2 separate regions of the Homo sapiens genome follow, and region 1 is linked to region 2. The links come from fine-mapping of genetic effects on gene expression. A gene starts in region 2. The other region holds a variant in brackets. All regions are shown on one strand. Distances are from middle to middle.

Region 1 (4,000 bases), 80 kb before region 2:
CTCTACTAAAAATACAAAAAAAATTAGCCAGGCATGGTGGTGGGCGCCTGTAATCCCAGTTACTTGTGAGGCTGAGGCATGAGAATCGCTTGAACCCAGGAGGTGGAGGTTGCAGTGAGCCGAGACCGCACCATTGCACTCCAGCCTGGGCAACAAGAAAGAAACTCCGTCTCAAAAAAATATATATATATCCTGGTGAAAACATCTTAGTGAAATTTTTCAACTGCAAAGACAATTGAAAACTACAAGAATTGCTCCCAAAGAAACAAAACATGAATGGTAATTGTAATTTCTGTAATTTATTGTAAATTTCTTTAATTGTGAAGTGTGATTTGTATAAATCTGTCAATGTATTTATATGTTCATGACTTTTCCTATTTGCATATTTGTTCCTTCATATTAAAGAAACTTTTCAAAATTAAAATTAGCAAAGAAGTGTTCTTTGGTCACCTATAAGCTGACAAAGTGACAAATCTATACGTCTACTGAATATGTACATGTAAAGAGGAGTGAATTCATTTCCTAAGACTGCTGTAACAAACTATCACAAACTGTGGAACTTAAAACAACAGAAATTTATTGTTTTGTGGCTCTGGAGGCTAGAAGTAAGAAAGCGATGTGTTAGCAGCAGGGTCATGCTCTCTGACAGATCTGAAAAAGAATGCGTTTTATACCTTTCCCTTGGCTTCAGGTGTGCTCCAGCAATCCTTGGTGTTCATTCATTGATTTGCAACTGCTTGACTCCATAATCTCTGCTTTCAAGGTCACATGGCTTTCTGCCTGTATGTCTCTGTCTTTACCTGGTCAGCATCACCCTGTGTCCATCTCTCTCTCTTCATGCGCATTTTTTTTTTTTTTTTTTTTGAGATAGAGCCTCACTCTGTCGCCCAGTCTAGAGTGCAGTGCCCGATCTCAGCTCACTGCAACCTCCACCTCCCGGGTTCAAGCTATTCTCCTGCCTCAGCCTCCCGAGTAGCTAGAATTACAGGCATGAGCCACCACGCCCGGCTAATTTTTGTGTTTTTAGTAGAGACGGGGTTTCGCCATGTTGGCCAGGCTGGTCTCGAATTCCTGACCTCAGGTGATCCGCCCGCCTCGGCCTCCCAAAGTGCTGGAATTACAGGAGTGAGCCACCGTGCCCGGCCTGCATATATGTATGTACGTATATATGTGTCTATCTATCTAGCTAGCTAGACACTAGGCATTTTGGATTAGGCGCCCACCTATGCCTGCATGACTTCATCTTAACAAATGACATCTGCAATGACCCTATTTCCACATAAGGTCACATTCTGAGTTACTGCAGGTTAGGACTTAACATAGCTTTTTGGGGACGGGAAGAATCATGGGGAAGACACAATTCAACCCATAACAAGGAATAATTTTGACAGTCATTGCCAATTTGCAGATGTTAAGGCTCAAAAACAAACTATAATATTATTGTTCATTAACACATAAATGTGTAGGTATGTTTTTTCCCCTTAAAAAGACACACTGGTGTAATTAAAAACAATCTACTACTTTTCCCTTTAGTGCTGTAATTTTTTTAACTGGAGTGATTACTTCAATAAAAGAAAAATTTCACTATCTGCGTTTCTTTTCCGGGCATCGTTATTATCCATCTCACCATTACTACTGAAAATCACTGTGTTAAAAACAATGCGTACAGGTGTCAACCAGGCCAGCTGGCCACTGCTGGACCCGGTAGGGCCGTCAGCCCGCAGGACCCCGAACCCTCCGGGTGCCTTTCTCTTCAGACGCTCTCTTTCCCAGGAGTCTCCGCGGCGGAGCGCCCCATCGCCCTAAATGCCACTGGCTGACGCAGCCCCAAAAAAAACCCGATGGCCCGCTTATCCCACACTAGGGGGCGCCTGGTTCTTCGGCCGCCACAGAGCGCTCTGGATGCCTGAAGCCCGCCCAGCTCGCCGCCTCTGGAAAAGCTCAACACCGTTTCTCCGCCCTTCCCGAGATTGCCAACGAGGCAGGCTCTGATGCGCATGCGCAAACACGTTCACCACGCTCCGAGCTAAGGCGC[A/C]TGCGTTCCCTGAAATTGCCGCCACCGGCTCTACCTTCCAGTTTCCAGTTCCGGCCTCCAAGGGGCGGGCAGAAGTTGGAAACATGCGGCTGTCGGTCGCTGCAGCGATCTCCCATGGCCGCGTATTTCGCCGTATGGGCCTCGGTCCCGAGTCCCGCATCCATCTGTTGCGGAACTTGCTCACAGGGCTGGTGCGGCACGAACGCATCGAGGCACCATGGGCGCGTGTGGACGAAATGAGGGGCTACGCGGAGAAGGTGAGGAGCGCGGCCCTCTTGTCCACTCTGCGGGTCTGGTCTGAGGGGGCGGAGCCGGCTGCAAGTGGAAAGGGACCGGGACCAACCTGGTAAACCATTCCCCAAGTCTGAGTCCCCCAGAACCTTGGGCTGAACCCGCCCCTCCATCGCCTCTAATGGAAGACTGGTTAGGGCTGCGGAGTTAGGGGTGGCGTAGATTGGAGATGCTTGGCTAGTGGAAAGAATGGATTGCCTTCCGGCATTAGAGAAATTAGATTGGCACCTTGTTTTCTTGCTCGGTTGGATCCGTGATGTTATGTCCTCACAGCTCATCGACTATGGGAAGCTGGGAGACACTAACGAACGAGCCATGCGCATGGCTGACTTCTGGCTCACAGTGAGTGCGACCTATCTGCCTTCAAAATCCCACCCTTTGCTCCCTGGGGGTGGGGGTTGGAAAAAGGAGAACTATGCAGAATTAAACTTGGGTACTCACTTATGGGCCAGTGCTGCTAACTAAATTAGAAACTGTGTCTTAAGTTAGTTGAAGTCGATGTGAATATACCTCTGCACAACTGCCTATAAACGACCCCTTTGTGTAACACTGACTATGCCAGATTGGCGAGGGGAGGGGGAGGTCTTTCTATGTGTGGATGGACCTTACCTTTGGGAATGGTGTAAAGTTAAATGCCTCTGCAGTTTTGCCTGACTCTGCTGTCTCTTGGATAATTCTCCCTCTAGGAGAAGGATTTGATCCCAAAGCTGTTTCAAGTACTGGCCCCTCGGTACAAAGATCAAACTGGGGGCTACACAAGAATGCTGCAGATCCCAAATCGGAGTTTGGATCGGGCCAAGATGGCAGTGATCGAGTATAAAGGGAATTGCCTCCCACCCCTGCCTCTGCCTCGCAGAGACAGCCACCTTACACTCCTAAACCAGCTGCTGCAGGGTTTGCGGCAGGACCTCAGGCAAAGCCAGGAAGCAAGCAACCACAGCTCCCACACAGCTCAAACACCAGGGATTTAACTGGATCTGAAGAGTCTGCAGCCCTTAATCAGTACCCATGATCACAGGCCTTTGGAGCACTTTTACTCTCTGAGAAGAACTGGAGCTAGAGATGTAAAATGGACAGTCTTGATGGGGTTGAGAACCTTCTGGGGAGCCAGATGACCCTCTCTTTGCACAATAGATAAAAGTCTTTATATGAATATATATAAATTTATTTATTTTTTCCTTCCTGTGGGATTTCTGGAGAATGAGAATTATCCAAATGCTCAGTCTACCTGAGATAGTAAATTCATGGCTTATGCTTCTGGTCCTTAAATTTGGGTTATTTTTGGTTAGTGCAATTTTGTTTTTCTTAATGCCAGTTTACATGGGAATGCATCCTATAATTCCAAATGTTGCCAGAGGTGGTTGTGTTTTGACATCTGGTCTCCTAGAGATGAGTGCTTGGGATTTCTTAGAGAAAGATTACTTCCTGACAGGGGTAGGGGAGTGACAATCTGCAAGTGAAACTTCCTTAAACAATCTAGTACCCTGCGAACCTTCAGGGGATACTGCAATCAGTCCTCTGTTTTGAGGCAGGATCACACATTACCTTAATGTGTTCCCTTCAACCCCCTGAATGGGCCTGGGAGGAGAGGACCCAAGAACTCAGATGTTCCACCAGTTTGGCCAAAGGGGTGGAGACATTCAGCAGAGGATGTTGGGCTCCAGGATAAGCTCC
Region 2 (4,229 bases):
TGTAGTCTGATTTCTTCACCCATTATTCTGAAACAACACTCACAGATGGTCAAATACATCCTAACTGCACACTGAGGGGAGCAACAGACACTGGGGCCTACCAGAGTGGGGCGGGTAGGAAGAGGGAGGGATCAGGAAAAATAACTAATGGGTGCCACGGCTTAATACCTGGGTGATGAAATGATCTGCACAACAAACCTCCATGACCTGAGTTTACCCATCCAACAAACCTGCACATGTACCCCTTAACTTAAAAAAAAAAAACCCAACTGTAAATTCAATGGCTACTTTAAAATATTAATGTTCTTTGATCTCTCAGTAGCCTGTACTGCCGTTGACTACCTCCCCTTCATTAAAACATTCTCTTCTGTAAGCTTTACTCACACATTTTCCTATTTCTTTTTCAACTTGCGGTTGCTCCTTTTCTGTCGTGCAGGCTTCCTGTCCCCTGACCTCTTGCCTTCCACTCTCCTGAGACGTTCTCCTTCACAACCACGTCTTCAAGTATCATCTATATATATGATATATATATGCTATCTATATGCTGATAGCTCTCAAATCTGTGTCTCCAAGTCAGATTCCTCCCCTGAATTGCAAATCTGCATAACCAACAACACACTCAACATTTCCACCTTGCTGTATTGTCACCTTAACTTTAACATGTCCAAAATAAAATGCCTCATCCTCCAGTTTTCTCCATCTCAGTAAAAACAACCAAGTTCCCAAGCCAGAACCCTGGTCCTCATCTTTGCCCTTACTCACTCCCCACACCAAGTTCCACAATTCTTCGTCCTAAAGACTTCTGGAATTTGATCACTTCTCTTTTTCACTCACCCTAATTCTAGTCCAAGACATCATTACTTCTACGATGAACTAGGCAATTGCCTCCTTTCCACCTGCTCTTCACAAAGCATCCAAGACGATACTGAAAAATGGACAATCTCATTATGTCACTATACAGCTTTAAAACCTTGCTTTTAAAATAAAGACCTTCTTATAGCCTAAATATGCTTGCATGATCTGGCTGATCCTTGGAGACCTCTACAGTCTTATGTCCTGTTCTTTTCCTCTTGTACCCAATGCTCCGACCCACAGAGATCATCTATCCTCCAGCCATATGGAACTCCAGACAATTTCCTGTTCTCTCTGCTCTGTGCCTTGCCCCCTAGCCTTTGGCCATGCAGTCTACTGAGGCTGGAAAGCTCTCTGTAGCCTCTGCCTGTGAAACTCTTATTCTGCAGTCAAGATTCAGCTCAAACTGCGTCCTCTGTGAAAACCCTCTGCCCCCCACAGGCTATGCTTAGCACTCATTACACTGGCTAGCAAAGGCAGCCGCCACCACCAGACATGAGCACTCCACTCCACGTAGCCAGGAGATCTCTAGCCTTCCTCTCATCCACCAACCGTTTCAGCTCACCCCTGGTTGAGGTCGTTCTCCGTGTTGTCCAGCCACAGGCGAACGGCGACTGCGTTGCCCTCCCGGCACTGAGTGAAAATGTCGTCCATAGCAGCGTCCCGGCGCCGAGTCCCCTGGATTGGGGAAGCCTGAGGACTGTGGAGTGATCCAGGGAAGGAGGATGAACCCCAAGCTTTATCCTCTACAGGAGAGAAGTGTTTGTGTTGGGGGTAGGGGGCCTGAGCTGCGTCCCCGGCTAGTGGGGGTCTGTGAAGGAGTTCGGGGCTGCGGGATGATCCCTGGCTGTGTCCTCTAGACGCGAGGTAAAGGCGGGTCAGGGTGGGCAGGGGGTGACGAAGAGGTAGTGTCTGCTGAACGGATGTCCGAGAGCAGGCAACTAGACCCTATCCGCGAACAGAGTTGGGGGAAGTGGGGAGGTTCAGGCTCCGTATACTCTGGGAGAGGGGACCGGGGGTCCTCCCCAGGGTTGGCTCCGTTCCTTACTTGGGACTCAGGAGAAGTGAGGGGTGACAGGGGGCGCGGGTCCTCTCGCACTCACCGGGACTCGGGCTGCAGGATCCTTCTCCGGGGAACTCCCGTCCGGCCGCGCCCGCAGCCCGCCGCCGGCCCCGCCCCGCCCGTGGCGCTCTTGGGCAGCGCGGGCCTCCGTCCCTCCCCTCCCACCGCCTCCCTGCCCTTCTAGCCGCGCCTGGCTAAACTCGATGGTTCGCTGCGCCGCGCCGGCCGCTCTAGCAACCCCTGGCTGTCACGCTTTGGTTTCCGGGTCGGTTCTGGCAGGTCTGAGCGCTCCGACTTCCAGAGGAGCGCTGTGCACGTGGAGAAGAGCGGGGACTCGGCGACCCTGCCCTCCCGACCCTCATGTTCGAAGAGCCTGAGTGGGCCGAGGCGGCCCCAGTAGCCGCGGGCCTTGGGCCCGTAATCTCACGACCTCCGCCTGCGGCCTCCTCGCAAAACAAGGTGAGTGACTCGCGGGAGCAATGGGAGCTGTTTCAGGCCGCGAAGCGGACATTGGTGGATCCCAGCGCTGTGTGTATTGCGGGGAGGGACACCTGTGGCACCGTTAAGGGCGAGTCCTGATCTGAAGATCCGAGAACTTCCAAAAGAAACTGACGTTGGGTCAGAGAGAGTTGTTGAGTAGAAGTTGGTGAAGCGAAGAGGGTTCTTCAGACAGGAAAAAGTACGTACAAGGGCCCTGGGACAAGAGAGCATGTTCTGTCAGAGTCACAAACACAAGTGGTCCTTGTGGTTGAAATACATAGTAAATGAAAGGGGCATATATGCTGTTCAAGTTCAAGAGGTAGAAGTTTTGCGTATATTGAGAATAGAAGCCAATGAAAGGTTTTAAGCAATGGAATTATTTCTTCAGATTTGTATTTTGAAAGGGTCGTCGGTTACAGTGTGGAGGATGGATTGGAGACAGTAAGAGTTGTCAGTATCATTGTTCAAAGGAGGGTGTGGGAAACTTAGAATCAGGGTAAGTGCCTGGCCTAGGATTACCTGGTAGGACTGCAACACAGAATCAGCCTTCCCGACAATACATCTTCTCCTTTGAGCCTCTGCAGATGTGAGGGCCCTGCTTCCTCAGGCTTTTCTTACCCTTCAGTCTGCCTCCAACATGGAATCGGCCTGCTTTGTTTCCTCCTTTTTCATCCCCTAGCCCCATTACCATTGTCCAAGCCGCTGGCCTCTCTGTCTGCAATTTCTCCCCTTCAGTTTGTTTTCTACACTGCAGCTAGAGACATGTTAAATATTTAATATACGTGTGTGATCATGTGTCTCCTGTGTTCAGAAGCCTCCTTACCTCTTACAGAAATGTATCAGCTCTAGGCAAAAGCTCAAGGTGAAGGGTTGGAATTCCTGGTCTCTGGCCTTGGTCTTGTTGCTTGTGGCCTTTGCATTTTCCTTTGGGGAAACCTCCATTAGCTCATTTACACATTGAAGAAAGTGGGATAGGTGGTTTCTCTGCTCTCCAGCTTCCCAGAAGTTGGGGTGGTGACATAAAAGTTCTTCTGGGTTCTGGCAGGCTTGACTGGGAAGAATTCAGATGCTTCTGCCAGTCTGAATCAGGTCCACATCTCTCCCTTCTTGTTCTCCAGGCCTCATCCATTCTCTTTAGGCCCACTGTCATCCCCTGTTTTCCTCCAGGGCTCCAAGCGCCGCCAGCTCTTGGCCACATTACGGGCCCTAGAGGCAGCATCTCTTTCCCAGCATCCCCCCAGCCTATGTATAAGTGACTCTGAGGAGGAGGAGGAGGAAAGGAAGAAGAAATGCCCCAAAAAGGCATCATTTGCCAGTGCCTCTGCTGAAGTAGGGAAGAAAGGGAAGAAGAAATGTCAAAAACAGGGCCCACCTTGCAGTGACTCTGAGGAAGAAGTAGAAAGGAAGAAGAAATGCCACAAACAGGCTCTTGTTGGCAGTGACTCTGCTGAAGATGAGAAAAGAAAGAGGAAATGCCAGAAACATGCCCCTATAAATTCAGCCCAGCACCTGGACAATGTTGACCAAACAGGTACCATTGGATGTGTATATGTGTGTGTGTTGGTGTGTGTGTGTCGGGGGGTCAGCTGGTTCTACATACAAGAGTGATTATCCACTGCCATTAGGATTGGGGCTAATGGTGTACTCAGGCAATAAGAAGTACTTCTCTGCAGGCCACAGTCACGATCTCAAAGACAGAGGTATGGCTGGGATGACTTGCCGTGACTCCGAATGTAAGAGATCTTGCCTCATGTGCACCTTCCCATCTCCCTCCCTGTAGGTCCCAAAGCCTGGAAGGGTAGTACTACAAATGATCCACCAAAGCAAAGCCCTG

What was found. PIP is the estimated chance that this variant, and not a neighbour inherited with it, causes the effect.
Region 1: its variant is fine-mapped to the expression of ILK in whole blood (TOPMed, PIP above 0.99).

Annotation. Positions count from the first base shown.
Region 1 is chr11:6,681,415-6,685,414 of GRCh38, reverse strand. It overlaps MRPL17 (mitochondrial ribosomal protein L17), which reads left to right and starts at 2,075. Exons shown (of 3, transcript NM_022061.4): 1 at 2,075-2,292; 2 at 2,600-2,668; 3 at 3,013-4,000. The coding sequence starts at 2,119. The coding sequence ends at 3,297. RefSeq lists enhancers at 1,915-2,354, 1,771-2,533. The variant A/C (reference allele first, on the strand shown) is at 2,036.
Region 2 is chr11:6,601,549-6,605,777 of GRCh38, reverse strand. ILK (integrin linked kinase) reads right to left here and starts at 2,004. Exons shown (of 13, transcript NM_004517.4): 1 at 1,956-2,004; 2 at 1,418-1,598. The coding sequence starts at 1,506. It overlaps RRP8 (ribosomal RNA processing 8), which reads left to right and starts at 2,162. Exons shown (of 7, transcript NM_015324.4): 1 at 2,162-2,374; 2 at 3,563-3,926; 3 at 4,176-4,229. The coding sequence starts at 2,276. RefSeq lists enhancers at 983-1,142, 1,373-1,612, 2,203-2,392, 2,388-2,929 and a silencer at 1,923-2,132.